4 linked regions of the Homo sapiens genome follow. The protein of the gene in region 2 interacts with the protein of the main gene of each other region in a pairwise test. Each region holds a gene or a part of one and is shown on either strand. Other genes may lie near its edges. The genes, in order: SPCS2, CLN8, TUBB4A and TMEM134.

What was found.
Region 1: the proteins of CLN8 (region 2) and SPCS2 interact in a two-hybrid assay, tested with the Homo sapiens proteins (one study listed by BioGRID).
Region 3: the proteins of CLN8 (region 2) and TUBB4A interact in a two-hybrid assay, tested with the Homo sapiens proteins (one study listed by BioGRID).
Region 4: the proteins of CLN8 (region 2) and TMEM134 interact in a two-hybrid assay, tested with the Homo sapiens proteins (one study listed by BioGRID).

The regions. Positions count from the first base shown.
Region 1 is NC_000011.10:74,944,592-74,952,824, reverse strand, and holds the start of SPCS2 (signal peptidase complex subunit 2), read right to left. Parts: upstream 3,560-8,233; 5' UTR 3,540-3,559; coding exon 3,426-3,539; intron 1-3,425. UniProt on the Homo sapiens protein: Component of the signal peptidase complex (SPC) which catalyzes the cleavage of N-terminal signal sequences from nascent proteins as they are translocated into the lumen of the endoplasmic reticulum.
Region 2 is NC_000008.11:1,766,183-1,774,159, forward strand, and holds part of CLN8 (protein CLN8), read left to right. Parts: intron 1-4,749; 5' UTR 4,750-4,872; coding exon 4,873-5,415; intron 5,416-6,741; coding exon of another isoform or gene 6,742-6,990; exon of another isoform or gene 6,991-7,977. UniProt on the Homo sapiens protein: Could play a role in cell proliferation during neuronal differentiation and in protection against cell death.
Region 3 is NC_000019.10:6,493,050-6,499,517, forward strand, and holds the end of TUBB4A (tubulin beta-4A chain), read right to left. Parts: intron 3,173-6,468; coding exon 2,115-3,172; 3' UTR 1,270-2,114; downstream 1-1,269. UniProt on the Homo sapiens protein: Tubulin is the major constituent of microtubules, a cylinder consisting of laterally associated linear protofilaments composed of alpha- and beta-tubulin heterodimers.
Region 4 is NC_000011.10:67,465,644-67,473,651, reverse strand, and holds the start of TMEM134 (transmembrane protein 134), read left to right. Parts: upstream 1-4,400; 5' UTR 4,401-4,459; coding exon 4,460-4,633; intron 4,634-5,559; coding exon 5,560-5,624; exon of another isoform or gene 5,625-5,635; intron 5,636-6,061; coding exon 6,062-6,151; intron 6,152-6,263; coding exon 6,264-6,340; intron 6,341-6,487; coding exon of another isoform or gene 6,488-6,510; exon of another isoform or gene 6,511-8,008.

The sequences.
Region 1 (8,233 bases), on a different chromosome or scaffold from region 2:
CCAAGAAAAGGCACTCAAGCAGCTCTTGACTATTCTCTTCTGTCCCTCACTTATTGGTTAAATCTTCCAAGCACTCTTTTGTGAGACCTTTTATCTATTTCTGCTACTCATGTTGGGGTTCTCATCACCTTGTCATTCTATTTTTTACCACAGACAGCCCTTTACAAAGAACATTTACTTCTAGTAGATTCCAAAGGACAGGGAACAGAGCTGGGTGCGGTGGCTCATGCCTGTAATTCCAGTACTTTGGGAGGCTGAGGTGGGCAGATCACTTGAGGCCAGGAGTTCACGATTAGTCTGGGCAACACAGTGAGACCTTGTCTCTACCAAAAATAAAAATAAAAATAAAATAAAAAGGGCAGAGGAAACCAAACTAAAAAACCCAAAGAACATTTACCAGCACTATACAATTTGATCCTTACAACAAGCCTATAATATGTATGAATGTCCACAATATTTACATAAGGAAATTTAAATTCAGTAATATCACACAACTTATCCAAGGTCATGTGGCTTTTATTAGGTAGGTGCAAAAGTTATCGTGGTTTTTGCCATTACTTTCAATGGCAAAAACAGCAATTACTTTTGCACCAACCTAATAACATGCGGCACTAGAACTCAAATTTGTCTCTTTTTATTATATATTATACACTACTGTGTATACGGCCTTATTAAGAAGTCTTCTAATTTCTGTCTCTCCAAACCATCTGAATAGTTTTCCTAAAAACCACTTTACACAGTCTCAAAACCCTTCAACAGCTTTCCTCTACTTCAAGCAATCCACGGCCTCCCTAATCAGATGCTATCTACTTGTCACTACAGTTCCTTTAGAGAGCCTTCTAGTCAACTCAATACCTGAGAAACATAAAACACCATCACATCTGTGTAACTTTACTCAAGGAGACTTTTTTACCTGGCATGTCTTTCTTTTCTCCCCCCAAATAAGGTGCCAGTTCCACTTTCAGGAATGAGGCCTTTCCTTCAGGCTCTTACTCTTTTTTTTTTTTTTTTTTTGAGACAGAGTTTCCCTCTTGTTGCCCAGGCTGGACTGCAATGGCGTGATCTCGGCTCACTGCAACCTCCACCTCCCGGGTTCAAGCGATTCTCCTGCCTCAGCCTCCCGAGTAGGTGGGATTACAGGCATGCACCACCACACTTCGCTAATTTTGTATTTTTAGTAGAGATGGGGTTTCTCCATCTTGGTCTGGCTGGTCTTGAACTTCCGACCTCAGGTGATCCGCCTGCCTTGGCCTCTCAAAGTGCTGGGTTTACAGGTGTGAGCCACTGCGCCCGGCCGAGGCTCTTACTCTTATCAATAAGCTCGCAGGGTTCACTCTATTTCTCTCATTTGAACTTCCGTAACAAGTACACACTTGAGCGAATATACCATATACTTCCTTAAATAGATTCAATTACCCCATCTCCTATATTTGGCTATTCTGAGTGCTCTCTGACAGTAGGATTCTTGATTTACTCCTCCACCATCACACATCTGTACTGGACACTACAGGTAATGGAGATCATTAATGTGTACTGTCTTACTTGGTTCTTCCCAAAACCCTGTGATCTAGGTGCCAGAGATTCCAAAATTCCAAATGAAGAAAGGTTAAGTGACTTGCCAATCTTCATACTGTTAGCAAGTAGCAGAAATACTTCAAAGCTGAAATCTTATGATCCCCACATCCGGGTTCTTTCAATAACACAATGGTGCCATATACACTATTCCATAATAATAGTATTCTATACTGCCTTAGCAGAATGCCCATACTTAATGTTTGCTGATGATGATCCAAGTGCAAGGAAGAGCAAGAGCAGTTAGTGGGGCAGGTAAGCACAGGCTATGAGGTGCTTACCTAGCAAGAGGGAAGGATTTGTGTACACAAATGACCATCAATTCCCCATACTCTCACATGTCTTGAAGCAATTTACCATCCCAACCTCCAGAATATGTTTCTGTATCTTAAGGTTTGAGTGTGAGGCCAGGTGCATGGTGACTTATGCCTGTAATCCCAGCACTTTGGGGAGCCAAGGTGGGAGGATCTCTTGAGGCCCAGGAATTTGAGACCAGCCAGGGCAACACAGTAAGACCCTGACTCTACAGAAAAGTTAAAAGCAAAAAAATTAGTCAGGCATAGTGGTGCACATTTGCAGTCCCAGCTACTCAGGAAGCTGGGGTGGGAAGATCACCTAAGCTTAAGAGTTCAAGGCCGCAGTGAGCTAAGATCCATTCTGGGCAATGGAGCGTGACCCCTCTCACAAGAGAAGAGTGTGAGAACCATGTCTTTCAAAACCAATGACACTCAAAAAGACAAGTAAAAAGACCTGGATCTTAACCCCTCAACATAATCATGTTTTCATTTCTTAAGCACCTACCATGTGTTATGCACAGGGAAGTCTGAAAGCTGTTTTCAATTATATTCAAAAATTCTGCTTACTATATTAAAGACACCATGCTTAACAATTCTCATCAAACCAGCCCAGGGCCCTACAATGAGAGAACTGGAAGGGAATTTAGAGTTAAGTCCCTCATTTTAAGGCTAAATCTCTCACTTTGCAGATGAGAAAACAGATATAGAGAGAGCAAGCATATTTCAAGGTCACAAAGCTAATTAGAGGCAAAATCAACACCAGGACGTTGTTCTCCGTGCAACTGTTTCTTCCAAGATGCTGTGCAAAGAGCAAGAAAGGCCAACCCAGGGACAGTTTTCCTTTTTTTCTTTTCTTTTAAACCCTTGTTGCTAGGACTGCAGTTAAAAAAAATTTTTTTGGATGAGCAGAGGGAGGAAAGGGGCAAGCGTGAGCGGGCAGCAGTGCACTTGGTAGCAAAGAGGGAGGTGGAGGGAAGAGAGGAGAGGGCGGGGAAAAACAACAGGAAAAAAAGAAAAATCTTAAAGGCTTCTTGTCAGCCCAGTAGAACAGTCAATACTCAAATATTTTCAGTATTCGCCTATCATGATAAAACGCCTAAAAACTTCAGTAAGCAAAAGGACAAGAAGCACTTTGGAATCTGTAGCAGCACGCAAGGGTGATGGTGGTAGAGAGTTTGGGGGATACTGATTCTTTAATCTTTGGGCTTCGGTTTTCCGTGTCTGTGAAATGGGCACTGACAACAGTGCACCCAGCCCCCCAGGAGAAAAGAGATGGACACGATTAAATATAGGAAAAATCAAATTACCGAAAAAGGTGTGGCGACCAGGACCAGAACACTTGCGAGAAAAGAAGAAGTTCTAAAGAGGACCGGGTCCAGGTTTGAAGTGTGATGAGGGCAAGGGCAGGCTCCAAGCGTGCGTAGGGTTGTGATAGTGGTCACACAAGGGCTCCCCTCAAAAGGCCGTAGAAAATAAGGGAGACCGGGATGGGAAGGTTGGCTCGCCGCCTCCCAGGCCTCCCCAGGATTCAACTGTTCCCAAGAACCGGCTCCTCACCTTATCCAACAAGCCGCTACGGCCACTTCCTGTCCCGCAGTTGGAAGCACCACCAGCCCCACTACAGCCTCCGCTACCACCGCTTCTCCCGCCCTGTACAGCTGCCGCCGCCATCTTGTCCGCCTCTGCGTCTCCCTCCCCTCCGACTTGTCTGAAGCCGATTGGCTGGAGCTGACAGCGTGACGCGCCGCGCGGAGTCAATCGGGATCCGTAGTTTGGGTCTTGCTGGCGCGAGGTAGTCAGAGGACGTGGCCGCGGGGCTTGCTGGGACTTGAGGTTAGACGTCCCGGCCGTCGGTTGCCGCCTACACTGTCTGCCGTCGCGTCGCAGTTACTAAGGCGTGGGGAAGATAGCGGCAGGCACCGCAGTGGAGCGGCTCCGAGATCCCCGGGGGGCTCGCAGGCGCGCATCCCTCCTGACTGGGACGTCGCCTCCGCAGACCCCTCGGAGGCTGAAGCGACGCCGGAGGCAGGTGCGACTGAAACTTAGTTTTCGAATTCGAGTCTTTCTCCGGCCCAGGTGTGGAGTTTCCAAAGGAGTGGGCAGGAGCTTGTCCTTCATCCTTTTCTAGCCCGGTTGTGGCACTTACCGATTATTCTCTCAAGCAGCTGTCATTTTAGCTGTTTGTAATGTTTTCGTGTTAACGGAGAACTCGCGTTTACTGAGTGCCTACAGTCTGCCAGGCAGTATCCTATGTGCACTTCCAGCCATCCTCTCTCTCACTGAGTCCCACAACAGCCCTGTTAGATGAGGAGGAAACTAAAGAACCTACCCAAAGCCAGATAGCATGTATCTGAACTCGGTTTTCAAGCCGGCATTTAAAAAAAATCAAAACCAATATATATCCCTTCTGACACTCTGCTTTTACGGTTTTAGGATGTAATAGTATTCTAGATTTTAATTATTTTTTTCACAAATGTATATTGAGCACCAATATTGTACTAACGGATACAGGGGATCAAGATAGACCTGGTTGCTACTCTGGTGGACTACTACTCCATGACAGAGTTATCAAATAGCAGTATTGTATTATACCATGCTCTATTACGTTGTATTTTAATTAATTTTTTTCACAAATGTATATTGAGCACCAATATTGTACTAACGGATACAGGGGATCAAGATAGACCTGGTTGCTACTCTGGTGGAACTACTACTCCATGACAGAGTTATCAAATAGCAGTATTGTATTATACCATGCTCTATTACGTTGTATTGTTTTTTAATTCCTATATATCCCCCATAAGCGTCTAAAGAATTAAACAAATATTTTTGAGTTTCTTACTATGTAACAGGCACTATTCTAGTCACCAGGGATATATCCCTGAATAAAACAGACAAAAACTTGTCTTGGGGAAGCCAAAATTCATGTGAAAATAATTATCTCGGCCGGGCGTGGGGGCTCATGGTTGTAATCCCCGCCAAGGCAGGCGGATCACCTGAGGTCAGGAGTTAAAGACCAGCCTGGCCAACATGGTGAAACCCCGTCTCTACTAAAAATACAAAAATGAGCCGGGCGTGGTAGCGGGCACCTGTAATCCCAGCTACTTGGGAGGCTGAGGCAGGAGAATTGCTTGAACCGGGGAGGCGGAGGTTGCAGTGAGCCGAGATCAGAAAGAAAAGAAAATAATTATCACTAAATAACTAAATTATTACTAAAAAGAAAATAAATATCACTAAATAGCAATAACATCAGATGATATTTCATTACCTCTGTGAAGCAATCCGTGGACACTAGTCAGATCCCCTGTAGCTTGTTGTTGCAGTTTATCTTTTACAACTTCTCATTTTTCTTTTATTTAAAATAAAGTGAGATGATACAGCATTGCCCTAGTCACTTTTTATTTTATTTTTTATTTTTTGAGACAGAGTCTCACTCTGTCACCCAGGCTGGAGTGCAGTGGTGGGATCTTGGCTCACTGCAACCTCTGCCTCCTGGGTTCAAGCAGTTCTTGTGCCTCAGCCTCCCAAGCTGTAGTCTTTGTAGCTGGGACTACAGGCACATGCCACCACACCTGGCTAATTTTTATATTTTTAGTAGAGACAGGATTTCGCCGTGTTGGACAGCCTAGTCTTGAACTCATGACCTCAAGTGATCCGTCTGCTTCGGCCTCCCAAAGTGCTGGGATTACAGGCATGAACCACCACACCAGGCCAACTTCTCATCTTTCAAGATCCAGCTTTAATGTCACCTACCCTGTGAAACTATTTCTGATACTTGCTTCTTCTTTCTTCACCCACTGCATGAAGTGCTCCTGTGGCATTTTGTTCATGGGTTGGGTTAGTTCAATTAACAATCATTGAGACTCTTCCTTCAGTAGGCCAGGTCCTGTGTGAGATGCAGGATAAAGAGATAAGTACAGGCTCACGCCTGTAATCCCAGCACTTTGGGAGGCCGAGGCGGGCGGATCACGAGGTCAGGAGATCAAGACCATCATGGCTAACATGTTGAAACCCCGTCTCTACTAAAAATACAAAAAATTACCCAGGCATGGTGGCGGGCGCCTGTAGTCCCAGCTTCTAGGGAGGCTGAGGCAGGAGAATGGCGTGAGCCCGGGAGGCGGAGCTTGCAGTGAGCTGAGATAGCGACACTGCACTCCAGCCTGGGTGACAGAGCAAGACTCCGTCTCAAAAAAAAAAAAAAAGAAAAAGAGGTAAGTAGGACCCAGGCCTGACCTGACCTTGGAGATACTCACAGCCTGTAGTGAGGTGGGGAACAAACAAGGAAGCAGGCATTATAATACAGTGTGGTATAGTGCCTGTATTAGTCCATTTTCACACTGCTATAAAGAACTGCTCAAGACTGGGTAATTTATAAAGGAAAGAGGTTTAATTGACTCACGGTTCTGCATGGCTGGGGAGGCCTCAGGAAATTTACAATCATGGCGGAAAGGGAAGAGGCAAGTCTTACATGGCAACAGGCAAGAGAGGGCAAGAGTGTGAAGGAGGAACTGTCAGTTATAAAACCATCAGATCTCGTGAGAGCTCACTCACTATGGTGAGGACAGCATGGGGGACCACCTCCTTGATCCAATCACTTCCTACTAGGTCTCTCTCTCAACACATGGGGATTATGGGGATTACAATTCAAGATGAGATTTGGGTGGGGACACAAAGCCTAACCATGTTAGTGCCTCCATTAAGAAGTGGGCCTGATGGCTGGGCAAGGGGGTTCACGCCTGTAATCCCAACACTTTGAGAGGCTGAGTTGGGAGTTTGAGGCAGCCTGGGCAACATGGTGAAAACCCATCTCTATCAAAAATATAGAAATTTAGCTGGGCATGGTAGCACACGTCTGTGGTCCAGCTACTTGGGAGGCTAAGGTGGGAGGATTGCTTGAGTCTGGGAGGTGGAGGTTGCAGTGAGCTGAGATCATGCCACTGCACTCCAGCCTGGGTAACAGAGTGAGACCTTGTCTCAAGAAAAAAAGAAAAAATAAATAAAAAAAGAAGTGGGCTTGAGGAGGCTCAGCCTAAGGAGAGGGAGATACAGGAAAGCTAATCTGTATGTAGCCGGGCAAGGAAGAGGGGCAGAAATGTGATAGGCCAAAGGAATGGAACAAGCAAAAATATGCCTTACTCTGTGTGTGTGTGTGTGAGAGAGAGAGAAAGAGAGATGTTTGTTTTGGAGGAAGCGCTACAGTCAGATTGGCATTAGCTGCATCAAGTTTGAGATGGAGACCAGAGGTAACTAAAGCTAACCAGGAAGTCAGCCTCCAAATCTGGAACTTTGACTTTTTTTTCTACCATATAAAGATCTTACTTGTCTTAGATAATGTAACCAGGGGTTATGTGCCCTTCTTGGCCCATTAGTTGTAGATCTACACCTTCTCACCTAATATTCCTAATAGGGAACTAGAATTTCTGCGATAGCATCCAGGTCTGCATGCCTCCTACAGGCTTCAGTGTGAGTCATCTTTTGTATTATATGCATGGCAAATATCTTTTCCCAGACTGTGTCTTATCTTTCAACTTTGACTTTCCTATTTTTATCTGGCAGAAATTTATTTTGTGTAAATAATCATGTAAACGATCCCGTCCTTTCAGGTTTGTGCTTCGTGTGTCTGATTTAAGCACTCCAGCCATACCCCACTATCATAATTATATTCTCCTATACCACCTTCCCATCTATGTCTTGTCTTTGTCTCCATCTCTGTATTGGTATCTATCTGTTTCTTGGATCCTTAGTCCTACGGGCAAGGACTAAAGGCAAGACAAATATTGGAGTGGAAGGCTCACAGTAGAATATAATTAATGAGGAAGTTCAAGAGCTCTGAATAGCAGGCTAAGAAGGAATATAATATTTATCTTACAGGCAAAGAAACAAGTGAAGAAACAAAAAAAAAAGGAAGTTAAGGGGCCATTCCCAAAGTCAAAGATCAAGTAAGTACTCTGGAGACCTGAAGCCAGGTCACCATATTCTGTAAGTTACTGAAGGCTTCTCCAACAGCCATCATATTTAACATTTTCCAGCCAGCAAATTACATCACATCTAACATTTTCCAGCCAGCAAGTTACTCATTCATTCTTTCATTTACCTCTAGCAGATGTGTGTGATTGGTCATGAGAGAGAGTTCCTGAAAGACATATTGACTGAATATAAATTTGTCCCCATCCATCCATCTATCCATTAATCTTACCAACATATTTTTAGTGAGTCGTAGGCTCTATGCTACATGCTGGGATTACACAGGTGAATAAGGTAATTATAGGCCCCACAACAGGTGAGAAGTTGATGAGGGGAGCAAACAATTATAATAAAGTCATAAGTGCTATACTAGGCGAAGTATGGAGTGTTGTAGGAATACA
Region 2 (7,977 bases):
ATCTTATAAGACAAGCTTTTTGTATACATTTTCTCCAAAGAAAATGAAGATCTGCAGCGTCAAGAGATGGTGGCCTTCCAGGAGTTGTTTATTCTCCGGCTCCACTTCCTCTACTGCAGAGAGGAAAGGGGCTGGTGTGGAAGGGCTTGGAAGCCTTCCAGAATGAAAGAACCAGATGAGTCCATTAGGTTCGGCCTCCAGTTTTTTGTTTTTTTTTTTTTTTTTGAGACGGAGCCTCACTCTGTCACCCAGGCTGGAGTGCAGTGGCGCTATCTCAGCTCACTGCACGTTCCGCCTTCCAGGTTCCCGCCATTCTCCTGCCTCAGCCTCCCGAGTAGCTGGGACTACAGGCGCTCGCCATCACGCCTGGCTATTTTTTTTTTGTATTTTAGTAGAGACAAGGTTTCACCATGTTAGCCAGGATGGTCTCGATCTCCTGACCTCGTGATCCTCCCACCTTGGGCTCCCAAAGTGCTGGGATTACAGGTGTGAGCCACCCTGCCCGGCCGATTCGGCCTCCAGTTTTACCCATGGAAGGAACAGTGACTTCCAGCTGTGCATTACACTTAAGGACTCCTTCATGTGGCCTGAGCCTTATGGTGCACAGCAAGGGAACAGTGGGAACCCCTGTGTCCCATTTTGCGTATCAAGAGTGAGAGGGTGTGGTTGGGTCAAGGAGCAGAAATAGAAGCAAAAGGAGAAGCTGAGCTCTTCCCATACCCCTTCTGTGCTGCCTGACAGAACAAGGCCTAGCCACACTTCTGTGGGTGCCCACCTTGTGACTTGGGGTGAACCACAGCTGTTCTCAGTACAACGCTGATGCCACGAAAGGACAGCAGAGCTCTGCAGGACTCCAGGAAGACTGGGCGCTTGGGCTGGATCCTGCCTCTGGGACTGGCCTTCTACCCTCATGGCTGAGAGAGCTGAGGAGTTCACCTCCTTTGTGAACTCCTGGCTGGAGGATGCTGGTTGGCATTAACTAAACTCAGAGACCCACAGTAACGAGTTAGACTAGAACAGCACCAGCTTACCCAGAAAGTCAGGAGGTTTGAGCAAAGAATCAGAATGGGGGATTCACTACAGGACTGGAAGGGGAAGTAAGCATTCTGGTCTTTATAATCTGCTGTTTCTGCATCCCTAATTGGCACCTGTTCTCTGACTGCCAGGAGGGTTTGCCCACTCAGCTGTGGCTTACCTGTTTCTGTTTCCATGTCTTTCACCTATCTGCCACTTTTCTGTAGATATGGTAATCTCTCCAAAAAGATATCTAGAAAGCTTGAAGACCTGGTAGCTATTTGCTCTTATGGTGAAGATCACACAAACTAGTTGAACATCTGGCTTGTAGTAGGTGCTTCATTTCCCGCTGCTCTGTATGTTTCTTTCTTTTTTTTTTTTTTTTTTTTTTTTGAGACGGGGTCTCATCTTGTCACCCAGGCTGGAGTGCAGTGGCGCAATCTCAGCTCACTGCCACCTCCACCTCCCGGGTTCAAGCGATTCTCCTGCCTCAGCCTCCCAAGTAGCTGGGATCACAGGCATGTACCACCACGCCCAGCTAATTTTTTGTATCTCTAATAGAGTCGAGGTTTGACCATGTTGGCCAGGCTGGTCTCGAACTTCTGACCTTGTGATGCACCTGCCTTGGCATCCCAAAGTGCTGGGATTACAGGCGTGCGCCACTGCACTCGGCCTGCTCTGTGTATTTCTTTTTCCTGTAGTCAGATTCTGGGGTCCAGGGTGGTTAGGAAAGAAACTTGTTTTCTTTCTTTCTTTTTTTTTTTGAGATGGAGTTTTGCTCTGTTGCCCAGGTTGAAGTGCAGTTGTGTGATCTCGGCTCACTGCAACCTCCACCCTCCTGGGTTCCAGAAATTCTCCTGCCTCAGCCTCCTGAGTAGCTCAAATTACAGGTGCGCACCACCACGCCTGGCTGATTTTTGTATTTTTAGTAGAGGCAGGGTTTTGCCGTGTTGGCCAGGTTGGTCTTGAACTCCTGACCTCAAGTGATTCACCCACCTTGGCTTCCCAAAGTGCTGGGATTACAGGTGTGAGCCACCACACCCAGCCTGAAACTTGGTTTCTTAGCTCCTAAATAGTGAAATCAAGATCAGAGCCCACTAAGCCAGCCGCTCTTCTTGGTTTTTGGTTCTCATGTCCTGGAGTCCCTCTCACCTTGACCAAACCAAAGACCTCCTGAAGCATCACTTGGGCTCACCACTTCCACTGAGGTGGATTTGAGTCATTGATCTGGGCAGAGCCTTCTGGAGTCGGGGTTTCTCTCGTCTCAAGGCAGAGGTCCTACAGAAGTTAGTGGTCTTGGCCAAGCGGACATTGATGCAACTGTGGCAAAATGGGACCTATAAGTCAGAGCTGATGACCTACTCGTGGAAAAGTACAGGGAGAAGTTTTACGAGGGGTCCATATTTTAACCTTTAACAGTGTTGTTCACGTTAACCCTTGTAATGGATGCTATTCCTTGCCTGATACCTGTCCTTTCCACCCAGCCTGCTTTTCTTTAATGCTGGTAAGCGGTCTCCCCTCCAGGCATTAGGCTGCACTTGAAGTTGATCTGCTCCTGTGAAGTGCATAGGGGTTCAACGATGCCTTGCTGCACACTGAATACCAGAGCCGAGTGCTCTTGCCAGCCCCTTAATACCATGTTCAACCTGATTTGTCAACAGGTTAACAGAAATGTGTTTGGAGATGTGTAAGTACACTGGAGTCTTGATATATAGCATGACCAGAAGTGTGGGTCACGAGGGCACACATGGGCATGGCAGCCCCTCAGTTGTCATCCATAGCATCTATCAGAGAGCACGCCTGTGTGCCCTGAACTCACGCACCAGGGGCAGCATGACACGGGAGCCGTTTCTCTAGGGAGAAACATGAGTACCAGTGCTGTCTTTCCCCACATCAGATTTGTGTTCAAACAGAGCTAGTCTGTGTTAAAGCTGGAGTGTTAATGGAGAAACAGACAAACTCTTGTACTATTTTGCCTTTGATTATAGACCATTATCAAAGCAAGAGGTTAGGAGTGATCAGTGCTCCCTTGTCATTTGCATCAGGTCCCAGGACTCACATTCTTTGCATGCTTGTGTGAGCTAGTGTTTTCCATGTCCTTGGGGTGTGGTCACAGCGACCTTTTTGCCTGAATAATGATTGGCAAGTTTTTGCTGAATGGCCACAGTGAATGGCTCCTCCTATGCTTCTGGCTCTAGTCCTGCTGTCTCACAATTGAGTCAATTCTGGGGTCTCTTCCGGAGAGCAGAGGGTCCAGCTGCGTGGGGAGTGTGGTGTTCCCAGCCCTGCTGTCTGTTCGCTGGGTGTGAGTGACAAGAGTCCCCACTCCCTGCAGAAATTCCATTACCTGGACAAGTCCCTGCACACTGGGTGAGGGGGGACCAGGCGGGGACCTGAGTCTTTGTCGGTAGCCGTTCCTATGTCATCGTTGTGTGCCTGGGTTTCCTGCCGTGTAAAAGGAAAGGCTGGAATCAATCACACGTCCCTTCCAGTTTTTCAAGAACTTGAGACTCTGGTGTTTGTAGCTTTGCAGACAGGTTCAGGCTTAGGTAAAGTGGACCCTTTCAGCATGATTCAGCATCTGTTCATGTGTTCCATAAATGTTTCTTGAGGGCCCACTGTGGACCCAGTGCTGCATCAGGCAGAGGAGATGCTGTGATGGAAGGCAGGTGTGGTCTGTGCCCTCACAGAGCTTGCTGTCCAGTGGAGGTGAGGATTCAGTAAGCACTTGTCCTATGTGCACCCCACCAGCAAGTCTCCCGCCTTCACAGCAGTCCCAATCAGTCACACAATTCAGGCATCGCAGGATGAAACATATTTAAGTCATTACACTGGGATACACTTTGTTACAGCACTGAACTTCTGCTGTTTGATCCTAGTTAACACCCCAAACACCAAAAATGAGTGTTTGGGGTATGCATCAGGAGCTTGTAGCAAAGGTACTTAACCCAGTCCATGGGTCTCCCCTACTCTGGGAGGGCATCTGGAGCAAATGGCCTTTAAGTGAGGACCTGACAGGTAAGATGATGCCAACTTGGGGAAGGTAAAGACTTTTCCAGGAGAGGGCCCAGCAGCTGCAGAGACCCAGAGGTGCAGGAGAGTGTGATGTTTTCAAAGGACTGGAAGGTTATAGCATGGAGTGAGATGCAGGGGATGGTGAGAGTGGAACCAGAGAAGGTATAATTGATAATCACATTCTGCAGAGTGCCGTAGGTCACAGTGAGGAGTTCAGGCCTTCCCTGCTGCTGTTGAGAAGGCATTCCATGGCCTTAACCAAGGAATAACATGAAGAACAGGAGCACAGGTTTTCGTGACATCCTTGGGGTGTTAACTAGGATCAAACAGCAGAAGTTCAGTGCTGTAACAAAGTGTATCCCAGTGTAATGACTTAAATATGTTTCATCCTGCGATGCCTGAATTGTGTGACTGATTGGGACTGCTGTGAAGGCGGGAGACTTGCTGGTGGGGTGCACATAGGACGAGCATAGGACCGTGTGTTCCTGCCAGCACGGCTCCGGCCTCCTGTTCGTGGCTGGACCGCTCTAGCTTTAGTTTCATTTTCTTTCCTCCTATACTGTCAGTGGATGTTACCTTGGTATGTTTATGCACCCTTGTAAGTTCATTAAGAATAAGGTACAGAATTAAATATTTTGTAGTTTAATGTTTGCGTTACTGGGGTAGTGATGTGTCCTTGTTTCTATCGAGTCAACACAAAATGAATGATCTTTCTTTTAGATTGAAGATGGATACGTGACAATCCCAGGGACCGCTGCACTGACTTCATTTCCTTAGACAAGACACAGTGTAGGGCCCGGCCCGTGTTGGCCCCAGGACTCCTTTGGAATATAGCTGTGGACAATGAATCCTGCGAGCGATGGGGGCACATCAGAGAGCATTTTTGACCTGGACTATGCATCCTGGGGGATCCGCTCCACGCTGATGGTCGCTGGCTTTGTCTTCTACTTGGGCGTCTTTGTGGTCTGCCACCAGCTGTCCTCTTCCCTGAATGCCACTTACCGTTCTTTGGTGGCCAGAGAGAAGGTCTTCTGGGACCTGGCGGCCACGCGTGCAGTCTTTGGTGTTCAGAGCACAGCCGCAGGCCTGTGGGCTCTGCTGGGGGACCCTGTGCTGCATGCCGACAAGGCGCGTGGCCAGCAGAACTGGTGCTGGTTTCACATCACGACAGCAACGGGATTCTTTTGCTTTGAAAATGTTGCAGTCCACCTGTCCAACTTGATCTTCCGGACATTTGACTTGTTTCTGGTTATCCACCATCTCTTTGCCTTTCTTGGGTTTCTTGGCTGCTTGGTCAATCTCCAAGCTGGCCACTATCTAGCTATGACCACGTTGCTCCTGGAGATGAGCACGCCCTTTACCTGCGTTTCCTGGATGCTCTTAAAGGTAAGTGCATGCATCAGCAGAAGATGACATGTGCCTCACGCATTTAATCACTGGCTACAATGTCCTGGACGCTGCCATAAACTCAACAGCAGGCTGGATTGCAGCACACACATTCAGTTACAAACTCATTTTAGTTGAATGCAATATTCTGGTTTTGTTTATTTATTTATTTATTTTGAGACGGATTCTGGCTCTCGTCCAGGCTGGAGGCAATTTTCTTAATTTTAAGTCTTTTAGGCTTTCTCTTCCTTAAGGAAAGAAAGCTCAGTAGATTTTATGGCTCAGTAGATAGCGTCTGGAAGCACTTAATTTTTTCCTTTCTTTTAATACTATATTTATTTATTTATTTATTTTTTGAGACGGAGCCTCACTCTGTCGCCCAGGCTGGAGTACAATGGCATGGTTTCGGCTCACTGCAACCTCCGCCTCCTGGGTTCAAGTGATTCTCCTGCGTCAGCCTCCCTAGTAGCTAGGACTACAGGTGCGCACCACCACACCTGGCTACCTTTTTTGTCTTTTTAGTAGAGATGGGGTTTCACTATGTTGGTCAGGCTGGTCTTGAACTCCTGACCTTGTGGTCCGCCTGCCTGGGCCTCCCAAAGTGCTGGAATTACAAATGTGAGCCACCGTGCCTGGCCTCTTTTAATACTTTAGAAAAACTGAAGTAATATCTGTGCGTACACACATACCTTGCTTGCTTTTTATTTTTGAATAAGGTTGTTGTACTAGTGCTCAGAAGTGTTGGGACCTAGCATAGTTATTTGCCTAGCACTTTCTTTCTGTTTTTGAAGAACATGTTTTAAAAATATTTGTCACTTGATTGTCATATTGATGTCAAAATGTTCTTCATGTTAAACTCTTTAAACTTTTTTTCCTTTTGAGACGGAATCTTGCTCTGTTGCCCAGGCTGGAGTGCAGTGGCATGATCTTGGCTCACTGCAACCTCCGCCACCCGGATTCAAGCAATTCTCTTGCCTCAGCCTCCCAAGTAGCTGGGATTACAGCGCCCACCACCACGCCTAGCTAATTTGTGTGTGTGTGTGTGTGTGTGTGTGTATTTTTAGTAGAGACGGAGTTTCACTGTGTTGGCCAGGCTGGTCTTGAACTCCTGACCTCAGGTGATCTCCCCGCCTTGGCCTCCCAAAATGCTGGGATTACAGGCATGAGCCACCGTGCACAGCCTTAAAATTGTTTTTACATAGATTCTTGCTATCTTTTATGACCCATCACATTGTTTATGGGATATTTGATATGAAATTTGAGATCCTGCAAATGTTCAGCCATTCACACAAATGGGTCATGTTACTGCACATTTCTTGTCTACAGGAGACTGGTAGCCTCGAGAGGAAAAATAAGCATAACAAATCACTCCTGCCTTCGGGGTCGAGGTGGGTAGATGATATCAGTCCATCAAAAGTGCACTGCAGTGTAAACAGTACAGACTGTTCATGCATAACCACCATGGACACCAGCCGGGTGTCAGATACTGTGCTGGCACCTGGGAACTCAAGGAGGAACTTGTGTTCCTGGTGTCCCCTGAGGTTGGCCCCATCTGGCACCAGATGGGGTGTGTGAGCACAGTGACAGGAAAGTGCAGAGAAACCATGGCCCCAGATGCGGACCCTCTGCAGGAGGAGCAGGTGAGCACCTCGGAGTTAAGGCAAGTGAATGAGGGTGAGTGAGGCACAGTCGTCGCCAGTACAGAGCCTCACAGGGTGGCCATGGAAGTAGATGGAGCCTATGGCAGGCGATACTGGAGACATCCTGGTGAGTGCGTGGTTTGGGCGGTGGCAGGAGGAGGTTGGGGGCCGGTGTGATTTGGGTAGAACTTACCAAGGAAGAAGGGTTGGAACCATGAATAGTTTGAAAGAGCCCCTCCGGTGACCTGGCTACTGAGTTCCCTTGGCGAGCAAATGACTGAATATGAAGCTGCTGGTCTAAGTGTGGGTCATTTTGGGAACGATGCTGTGACCTGGGACCCCATCAGCATCCTGTACGCAGCTTGCAGTTTTCCAGTTTTCTCTTTGTGGGCGTTATTTCCATAAGAGTGCAGACTTCTGGGATGCAGGTCAGGGCTGTGACTTCCCTGGGTTTCTCTGGAGTGAGATCAGTGTGGAGTGGAGAGGTGTGTGCTGGAGGAAGAGGCCTTGGCCTGTGCTCCGCATTGCCTACTCCTCTCACCTGGAAACACCGGACTTCAGGAGTCACTCGGCTGTGGCAGAAAATAAAGTTCTTGAAAGGAAAGCAGAGGCGCTCACTCACATCGATGCCCTAAACATCAATACCACATCAATGTCCCAAGTGGTAAATAGTGACTAAATTATTAATACATCCCACAAGATGGTGTGCTTGAGGTCATTAGTGTATTTTGAGAAATAGATTAATAGTTATCTTGTATTTTATTTTTATTACAAGTTCTTTAAAAACAACAAGAAAGACGTGAGTCTTTCTGTCTCTCCAGTCCTCAGGGGAAAGCAGTGTTGGATTTCTCCAGGGTTTTATCTGTGCTTCTCCTGGAGCCAGGTGTGGGGACAGCGTCTCCAGCAGTTCTCCCTCCCCTGG
Region 3 (6,468 bases), on a different chromosome or scaffold from region 2:
ACAACAACAAAGCAAAACAAAACAAAACAAACAAACAAACAAACAAAAAACAGGTTGCAGTAAGGAAGCTGGTCAAAACCCACCAAAACCAAGATGATGATGAGTGACCTCTGGTTGTCCTCACTGCTACACTCCCACCAGCGCCATGACAGTTTACAGATGCCACGGCAATGTCAGGAAGTCACCCTACATGTTCTAAAAAGGGGAGGCATGAATAATCCACCCCTTGTCTAGCATATCATCAAGAAAAAACCATAAAAATGGGCAACCAGTGGCTCTCATCTGTGGAGTAGCCATTCTTTGTTTTTTTTTTTTTTTTTTTTTTTTTTGATACGGAGTCTCGCTCTGTCACCCAGGCTGGAGTGCAGTGGCGCCATCTCAGCTGACTGCAACCTCTGCCTCCCAGGTTCAAGTGATTCTCCTGCCTCAGCCTCCCAAGTAGCCGGAACTATAGGCGCCTGCCACCACGCCCAGGTAATTTTTGCATTTTTAGTAGAGTTGGGGTTTCACCATGTTGGTCAGGCTGGTCTCTCCTGGCCTCAGGTGATCCACCCACCTCAGACTCCCAAAGTGTTGGGATTACAGGCATGAGCCACTGCACCTGGCTCCTTTATTTATTTATTTAATTATTATTATTTTTTGAGACGGAGTGTCACTCTGTTGCCAGGCTGGTGTGCAGTGGCGTTATCTTGGCTCACTGCAACCTCTGCCTCCCAGGTTCAAGCGATTCTCCTGCCTCAGCCTCCGGAGTACCTGGGACTACAGGCGCCCACCACCACGCCCTGCGAATTTTTTTATTTTTAGTAGAGATGGGATTTCGCCATGTTGACCAGGCTGGTCTCTCCTGGCCTCAGGTGATCCACCTGCCTCAGCCTCCCAATGTTGGGATTACAGGTGTGAGCCACCGTGCCCTACCCCTTTACTTTCTTAATAAACGTGCTTTTACTTTATGGACTTGCCCTGAATTCTTTCTTGAGATCCAAGAACCCTCTCTTGGGGTCTGGATTGGGACCCCATTCCTATAACAGTTGTGGGGGGATCCTGGGGGAAAACATACGATCCCATTTTACAGGTGGGAAGACCGAGGCTGAGAGAAGGCAAATGGCTTAGTCAAAACCTCAGGGTTAGTGGGTGGCCTAGCCTGGCCCGTCTGATCCCTCCCCAGCACGCCCCCCATCCAGAGATGAGATGTCATCGGTACCCTCCTCCATCCTGTAGAGAAAAGCCCGCACTTGCTGTAAGAGAGGAAAGAGGGATTCGGCAGAAACATCCATGACAACAATTAATTTATTTATTGAGGGTGAGGCAGGGAAGCGGGGAGGGAGGGTAGGGGTGACCTCTCTTCCTCACAGGCACCAGGCCTTGTTTCTCTCCCAGATAAGCTAAGGTCGGCAGGGGCTGAGGGGAGTGAGGCAGGGAGGATGCATGGGGCCTGTGGGAATCAGAGAGAAGCTGGGGTCAGAGGTAGGAGCTGACGCTGTGGGGGGTGGGGGGTGAAAGGTGAGGCAAGGTCAAAGGTGAACTGCAGCTCGGAGGGAGGGGTCCAATATAAACCAGGACTTGCAGGTGTAGAAGTAAAATGGGACTCATAGAGGGTGAAAGAGAAGTTGGAGTCAGAGGGGATTCAGAGATCAAAGAGAAGTTGGGGTCAGAGGTAGGAGCTGGGGCTCAGGTGGGGGGTTAAAGGTGAGGCAAGGTCAGCGGTGAAGTGCAGCTCAGAGGGAGGGGTCAAACATAAACCAGAACTTATAGGTCTAGAGGTAAAATGGGATTCATGGGGGGCAGAGGTCAAAGGTGAAGCAGAAGTCAGGGGTGAAGGAAGGTCTGCAAAGTTAAAGGTGCGGTTTCCAGAGTCAGAAGGGGTGAAGCGGGGCTCCTCCTGGGAATGTCAAGGTTGGAAGAGCTCAAGGGGGTTAAAGATAAATTAGGGCTCAAAGGGGAGCCAGGGTCGGAGATGAAGTAGCCAGAGGTAAAGCGAGCTCCAAAGGTATTGTTAGGGTCAGCGGGGAGTCAGCCTTGGAGGGAAAGCGGGGCTCTAGGGTTCAGAGATGGGGGGCCTAGCGGATCAAAGGTCAGAAGCCTCGAGGGGACAGGTGGGAAGCGATGGGAGCAGCCTAGGCCACCTCCTCCTCCGCCTCCTCCTCGAACTCGCCCTCCTCGGCCGTGGCGTCCTGGTACTGCTGGTACTCAGATACCAGGTCATTCATGTTGCTCTCGGCCTCGGTGAACTCCATCTCGTCCATGCCCTCGCCCGTGTACCAGTGCAAGAAGGCCTTGCGCCGGAACATGGCCGTGAACTGCTCGGAGATGCGCTTGAACAGCTCCTGGATGGCCGTGCTGTTGCCGATGAAGGTCGCGGCCATCTTCAGGCCGCGGGGCGGGATGTCGCACACGGCCGTCTTCACGTTGTTGGGGATCCACTCCACGAAGTAGCTGCTGTTCTTGCTCTGCACGCTCAGCATCTGCTCGTCCACCTCCTTCATGGACATGCGGCCCCGGAACACGGCGGCCACGGTCAGGTAGCGGCCGTGGCGCGGGTCGCACGCCGCCATCATGTTCTTGGCATCGAACATCTGCTGGGTGAGCTCGGGCACCGTCAGGGCCCGGTACTGCTGGCTGCCCCGGCTGGTCAGGGGTGCGAAGCCGGGCATGAAGAAGTGCAGGCGAGGAAAGGGAACCATGTTGACGGCCAGCTTGCGCAGGTCGGCGTTCAGCTGGCCCGGGAAGCGCAGGCAGGTGGTGACCCCGCTCATGGTGGCCGACACCAGGTGGTTGAGGTCCCCGTAGGTGGGGGTGGTCAGCTTGAGGGTGCGGAAACAGATGTCGTAGAGTGCCTCGTTGTCGATGCAGTAGGTCTCATCCGTATTCTCCACCAGCTGGTGCACAGACAGCGTGGCGTTGTAGGGCTCCACCACCGTGTCTGACACTTTGGGCGAGGGCACCACGCTGAAGGTGTTCATGATGCGGTCTGGGAACTCCTCGCGGATCTTACTGATGAGCAGCGTGCCCATTCCGGACCCCGTGCCACCCCCCAGCGAGTGGGTCAGCTGGAAGCCCTGAAGGCAGTCGCAGCTCTCGGCCTCCTTCCGGACTACGTCCAGGACAGCGTCCACCAGCTCTGCGCCCTCCGTGTAGTGCCCCTTTGCCCAGTTGTTGCCGGCTCCGGATTGGCCTAGAGAGGGAAGGGGAGGGGACACACATGCAGTTATGGGGAGCCCCAACCCTTGACTCTGTCTCTCCACCACCTGGAGGGCCTCTAGTAGTTGAATACTAGTAACTATCAAAAATAATAACAAATAGCCGGGTGCGGTGGCTCACACCTGTAATCCCAGCACTTTGGGAGGCCGAGGTGGGCGGATCACGAGGTCAGGAGATCGAGACCATCCTGGCTAACACGGTGAAACCCCGTCTCTACTAAAATTACAAAAAAAATTAGCCGGGAGTGGTGGCGGGCGCCTGTAGTCCTAGCTACTCGGGAGGCTGAGGCAGGAGAATGGCGTGAACCCAGGAGGCGGAACTTGCAGTGAGCCGACATTGTGCCACTGCACTGCAGCCTGGGCAACAGAGCGAGACTCCGTCTCAAAATAATAATAATAATAATAATAATAAATAATAACAATTATAGCCAGGTGTGCTGGTGAGCGATCGTAGTCCCTGGCTACTCGGGAGGCTGAGGCAAGAGAATTGCTTGAACCTGGGAGGAGGAGGCTGCAGGTAGCCAAGATTGAGCCACTGCATTCCAGCCTGGGTGACGGAGTGAGACTCCATCTCAAAAACACACATACACACAAAACACTCCCCCGCCCCCTGCCTAAAAAAAAACCAAGACTGGGCACAGTGGCTCATGCCTGTAATCCTAACACTTTGGGAGGCAGAGGTGGGAGGATTGCTTGAGCCCAGCAGTTCAAGACTAGCCTGGGCAACCTAGTGAGGCCATGTCTCTACAAAAAAAAAAAAAAAAAAAAAAAAAAAAAAATATATATATATATATATATATATATATATATATATATATAAATTAGCCAGTCATGGTGGTGGCACACCTGTAGTACCAGTTACTAGGGGGGCTCAGGTGGGAGATTGCTTGAGCCCAGGAGTTGGAGGCTGCAGTGAGCTATGATCACACCATTGCAGCCTGGGAGACAGAGCAAGACCCTGTCTCTAAAACAAATAAATAATAACAATAAAAAGATTAATATTTAACATCATTATTAATAATAATATCATTTTCAGGCAGGGTCTTGGTATGTTGCCCAGGCTGGAGTACAGAGGTGCAATCATGGCTCACTGCAGCCTTGACTTCCCAGGTTCAAGTGATCCTCCTGCCCCAGCCTTTTGAGTAGCTGGGACTACAGGCTTATGCTACCAGATCTGGCTAATTTTTGTATCTTTTTTTTGTAGAGGTGGGGTTTCGACATGTTGCCCAGGCTGTTCTTGAACTCCTGAGCTGGAGCAATCCACCTGCCATGGCCTCCTAAAGTGCTGGGATTACAGGCGTGAGCCACCATGCTTGGCCTGTGTTTTCTTGTTAATCATGTTTATTGTCTGCAAGCTCACTGTGGAATGCAAGCTCCCGGAGGAAAAGAATCAGTATTAGAATATTGGCCAGGCGCAGTGGCTCATGCCTGTAATCCAGCACTTAGGGAGGCCGAGGCGGGCAGATTGCGAGGTTAGGAGATCGAGACCATCCTGGCTAACACAGTGAAACCCTGTCTCTACTGAAAATACAAAAAATTAGCCGGGCGAGGTGGCGGGCGCCTGTAGTCCCAGCTACTCGGGAGGCTGAGCCTGCAGTGAGCCGAGATCGTGCCACTGCACTCCAGCCTGGGCGACAGCAAGACTCCGTCTCAAAAAAAAAAAAAAAAAAAAAGAAGAATATTGGCCAGGCGTGGTGGCTCACGCTTGTAAACCCAGCACTTTGGGAGGCCGAGGCGGGCGGATAGCGAGGTCAGGAGATCAAGACTATCCCGGCTAACACGGTGAAACCCCGTCTCTACTAAAAATAGAAAAAATTAGCTGGATGTGGTGGTGGGTGCCTGTAGTCTCAGCTACTCGGGAGGCTGAGGCAGGAGAATGGCGTGAACCCAGGAGGTGGAGCTTGCAGTGAGCCGAGATCGCGCCACTGCACTCCAGCCTGGGCGACAGAGTGAGACTTTGTCTCAAAAAAAAAAAAAATGGAATAAAAAAAAGAATATTGGCCGGTATTACTGTGAACAGCTAACGTTTTCTTTCACCCCTCATCTGTCTCCACCTTAGTTCAGCTCCAGCATCACCCTCCTGGATAAGTTCAATTCCCTCTGTCCTGGTCCCCTGGCTCCTACCCTTATCACCCAGTCTGTCCTCTCCACAGTACCCACGAGAGGACACCTGAGAGCAAGTAAGTCAGGTCCCGTCCCTCCTCTGCCTACAGCCCTCCATGGCTCCCACCTACCTTGGGGTCAAAGCCCAAATCCTCCCTGCAGGCCACAAGGCCCTGCCGGACCTGCCCCATCCCCTCCCTCACTCTGCTTCAGCCGCAGCTGTTACTCCAGCTTTCCAGGTGTGGTCCTGCCCTGGGGCCTTTGCACTAGTGGCTTGGCTGCTTAGAATGCTTTCCCCCCAGGTATTCACCTGACTTTTTCCTCACTTCCTTCAGGTCTCAGCTCAATGCCACATCCTCAGAGAAGCCACCTCTGGTCACCCCCTCCCTCCTCCTCCCGAGCCTGGTGGTTTAGACTGCAGATTCTCGGGACTGACAAGACAAACTGTGTGACCTTGGACAAGTGACTTCCCCTTTCTGATCTGTTGGAAGATTTCAAAACATAATGATGCAGTTTTGTGGCCGTGGCCCATCATAGGTCCTTGGGAAATGGCTGGGTGAAATCAAGATGAAATGAGATTGGCCAAATGGTGTGAGTGATTTCAGGAGGACCAGAGGGCTTACAGTTGGGCCAAGAGATTCTATGGCCTCTGGGTGGCCAGGGGGTGGGAGGAGCATTAAAAGTGTGGGCTCAGACCAGGCGCGGTTGCTCATGCCTGTAATCCCAGCACTTTGGGAAGCAGAGGCAGGCAGATCACCTGAGAGGTCAGGAATAGGAGACCAGCCTGGCCAACATGGCGAAACCCCGTCACTATTAAAAATACAAAAAATTAGCTAGGTGTGGTGATGCATGCCTGTAGTCCCAGCTACTCGTGAGGCAGGAGAATCGCTTGAATCTGGGAGGTGGAGGTTGCGTCACTGCACTCCAGCCTGGGCAACGGAGACTCCGTCTCAAAAAAAAAAAAAAGCGTGGACCTAGTAGTCAGACCCTCTCCTCTGGCTCCTGACAGCCCCAGTGGCTTGCAGTGTGACTTTCTGCAAGTGACCTAACGTCTCTGTGCCTCTGTTTTCTCACCTGTAAAATGGAAGTAAGAGGCGAGTTGCGGAAAAGATTCAGAGAGGCAGGACAGGTCCTGCATTTAGCACGTCTTACATGCTGGGAGTATTGG
Region 4 (8,008 bases), on a different chromosome or scaffold from region 2:
TTTACCTCTCCAGTGCTAGGAAGGGGCTATGCCCATAAACTCAACAGGAAGCAGTTACAGAAGATGGATCTCTGCCCTTCCGCTGCCCTCTTAAGATTAAGAAGGAGTATCTAATCTCTGAGCGAGGAATGAGGTAGGTGGCAGGACTCAGCTCTGGAGGTGGGACACAGACACCAGACCAGATTGAGAACTAGCTAAAACAGGGAATGCTGCGCATGGTGGCTCATGCCTGTAATCCCAGCACTTTGGGAGGGTGAGGCAGGTGGATCACTTGAGGCCAGGAATTTGAGACCAGTTTGGCCAACATGGTAAAACACCATCTCTACTAAAAATACAAAACTTAGCTGGGTGTAGTGGCGGATGCCTGTAATCCCAGCTACTCCGGAGGCTGAGGCAGAGAATCGCTTGAACCCAGGAGGTGGAGGTTGCAGTGAGCCTAGATCGTGCCACTGCACTCCAGCCTGGACAACAGAGGGAGACTCCGTCTCAAAAAAATAAAACAGGGAAGAGGTGAAAGCACCTCTCCATAAGACCTAAGACCCGTAAGACCAGTGCATGTCAGTTTACCATTGCCATGGCAACACCTAGAAGTTACCACCCCCTTCGGTGGCAATGACCTGACGGCCCAGAAGTTACCACTCTTTCCCTAGAAATTTCTGGATAATTCACCCCTCAATTTGCATGTAATTAAAAGTGGGCATAAATATGGCTGCAGAACTGCCTCTGAGCAGCTGCTGGGGGCACACTGCCTGTGGGATGGCCCTGCTCCACAAGGAGCGACGCCTGTGCTGCTGCTGTGCGCTGCTGCTTCTGTAAAAGTTGCTTTCCAATAAGTAAAAAATAAGGCCAGGCACGGTGGCTCACGCCTGTAATCCCAGCACTTTGGGAGGCTGAAGTGGGCAGATCAACTGAGGTCAGAAGATGGAGACCAGCCTGGCCAAAATGGCGAAATCCTGTCTCTACTAAAAATACAAAAATTAGCTGGGCGTGGTGGCAGACGCCTGTAATCCAAGCCACTTGGGAGGCTGAGGCAGAAGAATCGCTTGAACCCAAGAGGCAGAGATTGCAGTGAGCCGAGATCACACCACTGCACTCCAGCCTGGGCGACAGAGCAAGGCTCAGTCTTAAAAAAATAAAAAATTTTAAAAAATGTTTAAGTTGCTGTCTAACACCACCAGCTCACCCTTGAATTCTTTCCCAGGTGAAGCCAAGCACTCTCTTGGGCTAAGCCCCAATTTTGGGGATCACCTGCCCTGCATCAGCCTTGCTACGCTGAGGCTGATCTTGAATTCCTGGCCTCAAGTGATCCTCCTGCCTCAGCTTCCCCAAAGTGCTGGGATTACAGACATGAGCCACTGCACCCAGCCTGAAAAGGAGTGATTATTCTTTGAGAGCATGTTAGACAAAGAGTCAAAGACAGACAGATAGGAAATATGTGCAAGGTCATAAACCAGCAAGGAATTAATGATTAGATATGTTGATATGCAAATTAGTGGAAAAAGGCTAGAAACCCAATAGCAAAAAGAAAGACCAAAGATATGAAAAGCCAGTTCACAGACAAGGGACACCCAATGGCTGACAAGGGCACAAAGAGCAGCTCAAACTCTCCAGCCATCAGAGAACCCAGAGGAACATGAGGTACCACTTTAAATTCATCAGATCGGCAAGCCATTAAAAAGTTGGATGGTACCAAGTCCTGAGAGAACCAGAAGCCTCAGGTGGAGTGTCAACTCTCACAGCCACTCAGGAGAGCATCTGTGGTACCCTGTGAAGTCATGAGTGCGTGTGCCCTATAACCTGGAAATCCTACCCCAAGGGGAATTCTCCCACAGTCCATAAGGGGACAGCAGGAAGATGTTAACTGCAGTGATGCCTGTGATGGCGGGGTTGAGGCCAGTTTGAGTGTACAACACTGTGGAGGTGAGGTGGATCATAAAGGTGCTAGACACTCAACATGGTACAACATGCATGTAGCCTGTAGAAACAATAAACAAATGCATATGGAAAACAGCATCGAGAGCAAAAATGTAAACGTGTAAGTAACAGAACTGAATTTTCTGCATGACATCATGTTTGTAAATTGCAAACACATCCACATAGGAGACAGTGCCATACATGGTACAGAGCCAGGCAGGCTTTAAGGACGCCGACTGAGCATGCTGACATGGGTCTGATGGAAGGCAGGGGAGAGGAAGGAACCTGGGAAGTGAAAGAGGGTAAGTGAATTAACATAACTCGAGAGGGGCCTTATTCATAGTGTTGATGTGTAACAAACAGAAGTAGACTTGACTCAGCTCTGTACATGAGGCCATAAAATGAACATGAGGCCGGGTGTGGTGGCTCATACCCAGCACCTTGGGAGGCCGAGGTGGGCAGATCACGCCTGTAATCCTAGCTACAGGGGAGGCTGAGGCAGGAGAATCGCTTGAACCCAGGGGGCGGAGGTTGCAGCAAGCCGAGATCTTGCCACTGCACTCCAGCCCGGGTGACGGTGCGAGACTCTGTCTCAAAAATAATAATAATAATAATAATAATAATAAGGCAGGGCACTGTGGCTCATGCCTGTAATCCCAGCCTCCTCGGGAGGCTGAGGCAGGAGAATCACTTGAACCCAGGAGGTGGAGGTTGCAGTGAGCTGAGATCGCACTCCAGCTTGGGCAACAGAGCGAGACCCTGTGTCGAAAAAAACAAAAACAAAAAAGAACTCTTGACTAAGGTCCATAAAGCTCTCAAGGCTCTGGGGCCCATCTACTCCTCCCAGGCTCATCAAGTCGGCCTGCCCCTTTCCTTGCTGCTCAGCCACACTGGTTTTCTCACATTCTTCCTCCACAGGCCAAGCTCCTTCCCACCTCCTGGCCTTTGAACGTGCTGTTCCCTGGTGCCAGGAAAACACTGAACCTTGCTTTTCTCACAGCTGGCTCCTTCATCATCGGCATTCCTGCTCAAATGTCACCTCTTGGAAAGGTCATCTTTGAGTACGAAATCTAAAGTCAGTTTTGCATCACACAGCACTTGAAACTGTCTCATTTTGCACTGTTTTATTCACCACTGTATCTATAGTGCCCAAAACAGTGTTTGGCCCTAAATAGATGCTTAATAAATACTTGTGGCAGAAATGAATGAGGGGTTTGCCAAAGTCCCAAGTACTTACAAGTGGTAGAATGGGGATTTGAAACCAGGTCCACCTAATTCATAGAGTACTTCTGCTCTTCCACCCCCACCGCCCCCCACCACGGTTCATTTTTTTTTTATGGAGTCTTGCTCTGTTGCCCAGGCTGGAGTGCAGTGGTGTGATCTCCACTCACTACAACCTCTGCCTCCAGGGTACAAGCGATTCTCCTGCCTCAGCCTCCCAAGTAGCTGGGATTACAGGCACTGGTCACCGTGCCCAGCTAATTTTTGTATTTTTAGTAGAGACTGGGTTTCACCATGTTGGCCAGGCTGGTCTCAAACTCCTGACCTCAAGTGATCCACTCTCCTTGGCCTCCCAAAGTGTGAGCCACCGTGCCCTGCCAAGAGTTCAGATTTTATTCTAAGTGCAATGGAAAACCAAGGGAAGGTTTTTTTGTTTGTTTTGTTTTGTTTTTTGAGACGGAGTCTTGCTCTGTCGCCCAGGCTGGAGTGCAGTGGCTCAATCTCGGCTCACTGCAACATCTGCCTCCCGGGTTCAAGCAATTCTTCTGCCTCAGCCTCCCAAGTAGCTGGGACTATAGGCATGCACTACCACGCCCGGCTAATTTTTGTATTTTTAGTAAAGACGGGGTTTCGCCTTTTGGCCAGGCTGGTCTTGAACTCCTGACCTCAAGTGATCCACCCGCCTCGGCCTCCCAAAGTGCTGGGATTACAGGAGTGAGCCACCGAGCCAGGCCAGCAGCAAAATTTTTAAAAAGGGTTTTCAGAATAACACACGCAGATAAAAAGATTTGTTTTAAAAGATCACTTCGGCTGCTGCGTGGAGACTGACTGGAAATTGGAAGACACATAAGCTCTCTGAGCCTCGGTTTCCACATTTGCAAAAATGGGGAGAGCACCCCTCCGGTGCGGGGCTGTTGTGAGTAAGGTGGGGAAACAGTTCCCAGGAGTCTCCTTGGCACTCGAGGAACAGGCTGCGGTGCAAAAGGCCCTGTCAGGGACCTGGAGGTTGGGGCGTGGAAGCCCCTCCAAGCCCCCGCACATACACGCCTGGGGGATGTGTCCGAGCCCGGCACGGGCTGTCGCTTGCCATGGCGGCCACTGAGTGGCGTCACGGGGCGGGCGCGCTCCGTCTGGAAGAGGCTCCCACCCATCAGCCCGCTCAGGGCTCGGCAACTCTGGCCTGCTTAGGGCGGACGGGGGCGGGACCGGCGCGTGGGGCGGAGCCAGGGTCGGAGGGGCGGGGCATGCGGGGGCGGGGCAGCGGCGACGCTGGGTGTGTGGGCGCAGATGGCGGCGGCGCACGGCGCCTGAGCGGGCCGGGGCCATGAGCGCCGCCCGGCCCCAGTTCAGCATTGATGATGCCTTCGAGCTGTCCCTGGAGGACGGGGGCCCTGGGCCCGAGTCCAGCGGGGTCGCGCGCTTTGGGCCGCTGCACTTCGAGCGTCGGGCCCGGTTCGAGGTGGCTGACGAGGACAAGCAGTCCCGGCTGCGCTACCAGGTGAACCGCCCGGCCCACCTAACCCCCTGCCCCCGGCCGGACGGGACCCCAGGCCGGGCCCCAAAGGCCTCAACTCGGGGAAGCATCTGCCTAGAGGCCCCAGCTGAAGCGCGAGACCGCCCCCCCGCCCCGCGGACGTGACTCTTGATCCAGAGCCCTGCCCAGGCCCTCCCGGTTCCCATACCGGGCCCCAGCCAGCCGGGAAGAGCCCAGTGCCCGGGCCCGGGAGCTCATCCCTCAGCTCCAGCTGGGGAACCCAACCGGATTCCCCACTCATCCTGGCTACTCGCACCTGGCCCCCGCTGGGTTGGGGGAGCTCCTCTGTATCTGAACCAGACCTTGCCCCACACGCAGGAGCATCCCCTGTGCCCCAGGCCAGCTAAGCTGATGGGAACCCGCACGCCTTTCTCTATTCTGAAAGCCCTCTCCCTAATCCCACCACCACCCCTAAGAGCTGGAGCTCCTCTCACATGACCAGTCCTTGCCCACCCTTTGGCTCCCACTAAACCAGAAAAACCCATTTTCCCAGAAAACCTCCACCAACCCTAGGCTGCTTTTCTTGGAGACCTGGACCAGAACCCTGTGCCTTGAACCTGGGAACTCTGGGCCTGGCCTTTCCTGGCACCCCAATTCCCAAGCTCCCATTCTAGGCCACTGAATGAGAGCTCCACCCTAACCCAAAGTTGGGAGCTCTCCTTTCCCTGGGATCTATGCAGGCTCCTGCTCCCCAAAGCCCTGGCATCCACCCACCTCCTACCTGGTTTCTGTGAATCACCAAACCCGTTCTGCGGGGAGGGCAGAGGGCCAGGTGAACAGCTGCCAGGCGGCCAGGCAAATGGTTGTGTAGGCCTGCTTTTCTCTTCCCGGGAGGGAGTGAGGAAGGGCCCCAGCCCAGCAACCCCCCTGAGACCTGTGTTCTGCAACAGAACCTGGAGAACGATGAGGATGGAGCCCAGGCCTCTCCGGAGCCGGATGGGGGAGTCGGCACCAGGTTAGGGCCAGGTGGGGACCCAACCCTGTACCCCAGCCCCAGCTCCTATCCCCAGGGACCCTGCTCAGTCACCCACCCCACTTCACTCACTCTCTTCCATCCCGTCCTATTGATTCCTAGCCTGACCCTCACTTTCCTCACAGGGTCTCCTACACTGTAGGGTCACCCTACCCTAGTGCCCAGCTGTACTCACCTCTTTCAGAAACCCCCAGTCTGGTCTGGCCCCCACCTTCATACAGGTCACCTGTCCTACAGAATCCCCTAGCTCATCCCCAGCCCCTGAATTCATGCTCACCCACCGAGGCCTCTCAGGGCCCACTATCCTGCAAGGGGCCAGCCCCAGTCCCTGCACCATGCCCTGCACTTCATCAGGACTCCTGTCCCAAAGCAACCCCGTCCTTGCCTCCCTGCCCCTCACTGGGCGCCTGTCCTGGCAGGGATTCCAGCCGAACTTCCATCCGCAGCTCCCAGTGGTCCTTCAGCACCATCAGCAGCAGCACCCAGCGCTCCTACAACACCTGCTGCAGGTGAGCCTGCCCGCCTAAGCCCCCAGCCGAGCAGCCCTGGCTCCACCCCCACAGCCTCCTGCACCCCCTCCCTCCACCTCCTTCACATTCACCCTGCTCTCCTGCCACCCAGCTGGACCCAACACCCTTTGATCCAGAAGAACCGCCGAGTGGTGCTGGCCTCCTTCCTGCTCCTGCTGCTGGGGCTGGGTGAGTGGCCCTGAGGGTTGGGGTCAAGAGGGGCCCCGTGGGAGGCTCTGCCCTCCTTTTGTACAGGCTCTGCCTCCCCCTTGACACTGAGCCTCCCAGCATCCTGAGGAGGCAGCTGGCTGCCATCATCACACTCCCATTTTACAGGTGAGGAGACAGAGGCCTTGTGACCTGGGCACACAGCCAGGAAATCACACATAGCTGAAAATGGAACCTGGCTTATCACTGCAAAGACTTTTCCTTTTTTAAAAAATTTAACCTGTTTAAATCCATTAGAGGACAGAAGAGTAGCAGCTACCATTTATTCTGTGTCTACTCTGGGCAAGGTGCAGGGCAGTTTTATTTTCCCATCTTACAGAAGTCCTACAAGTGAGGTGGTGCCCAGAAGCCACGTGTAGGGGCTCAGGGATGCCGAGTGCCCAGCCAGTGCAGAGCCGCAGGGCACCTGGCACTTCCCCTTGTCTGGCATCTAAGCACTGACAAGCACCCCTCTCCTACCCATTGCTCAGATGGGGGAACTTTTGGTCCAGAGCAGGCAGATCTCACACCAGGTGTTCTTTGGCTCCCAGGCACCTCGTTCTTTGGGGTAGAGGAGGCAGAGTCCCCAGAAAGGATCCAGGGTTGGGGTCACGAGTGATCCATAAGAAGGGACTAACTGTGGCTGCTACCCTGGCTCATCTCTCCGCTTCTCCAGGAAGGCCAAGGCTCCCCAGCCAGCCAGGCCCCTGGCACAGAGTCTGGCCTCTGCTCAGGGTGTTTGAGTGTGGGGGAGGGGGCTGCCACTTCCCAGCACCGCTGTACACTGGCCCTGGTAGTGCTGCCAAGTTCTTTCATTTTTCCCCTCAACCCAGCAAGGCAAGCCTGGGGCTACCAGAGCGCCTTAGAGGGCCTTTGTAGGGTGCAGGGAGTGAGTTTCAGCCCCCATCATACCCTATACCCCTTTATTTTTATTTATTTATTTTTTGAGGAGGAGTCTTGCTCTGTCGCCCAGGCAGGAGTGTAGTGGCGCAATCTCGGCTCACTGCAACCTCTGCCTCCTGGGTTCAAGGGATTTTCATGCCTTAGCCTCCAGAGTAGCTGGGATTACAGGCGCGCGCCACCACACCTGGCTAATTTTTTGTATTTTTTTAGTAGAGATGGGGTTTCACCATGTTGGCCTCAGGTGATCCACCCACCTCAGCTTCCCAAAGTGTTGGGATTACAGGCGTGAGCCACCACGCCCAGCCCTTTTTATTTTTTAGAGACAGGGTCTTGTTCTGTTGCCCAAGCTGGAGAGCTGTGGTATGATCACTGCAGCCTCAAACTCTTGGACTCAAGCCATCCTCCCAGCTGAGCCTCCCTAGTAGCTGGGACTACAGGCATGTACCACCATGCTCAGCTAATTTTTTTTTTTTTAAAATAATAATAGAGACAAGGTCTCACTATGTTGCCCAGGCTGGTCTTGAACTCCTGAACTCAAGTGATCCTCCTGCCTCAGCCTCCCAAAGTGCTAGGATTACAGCCATGAGTCACCACGCCTGGGCTGGGCTAATTTTTTTTTAACCTTTTATAGAGATGGGGATCTTGGTATGTTGCCCAGGCTGGCTTCAAACTCCTGGCCTCAAGCGATCTTCCTGCCTTGGCTCCCTGAAGCACTGGGATTACAGGCATGAGCCACCACACCTGGCC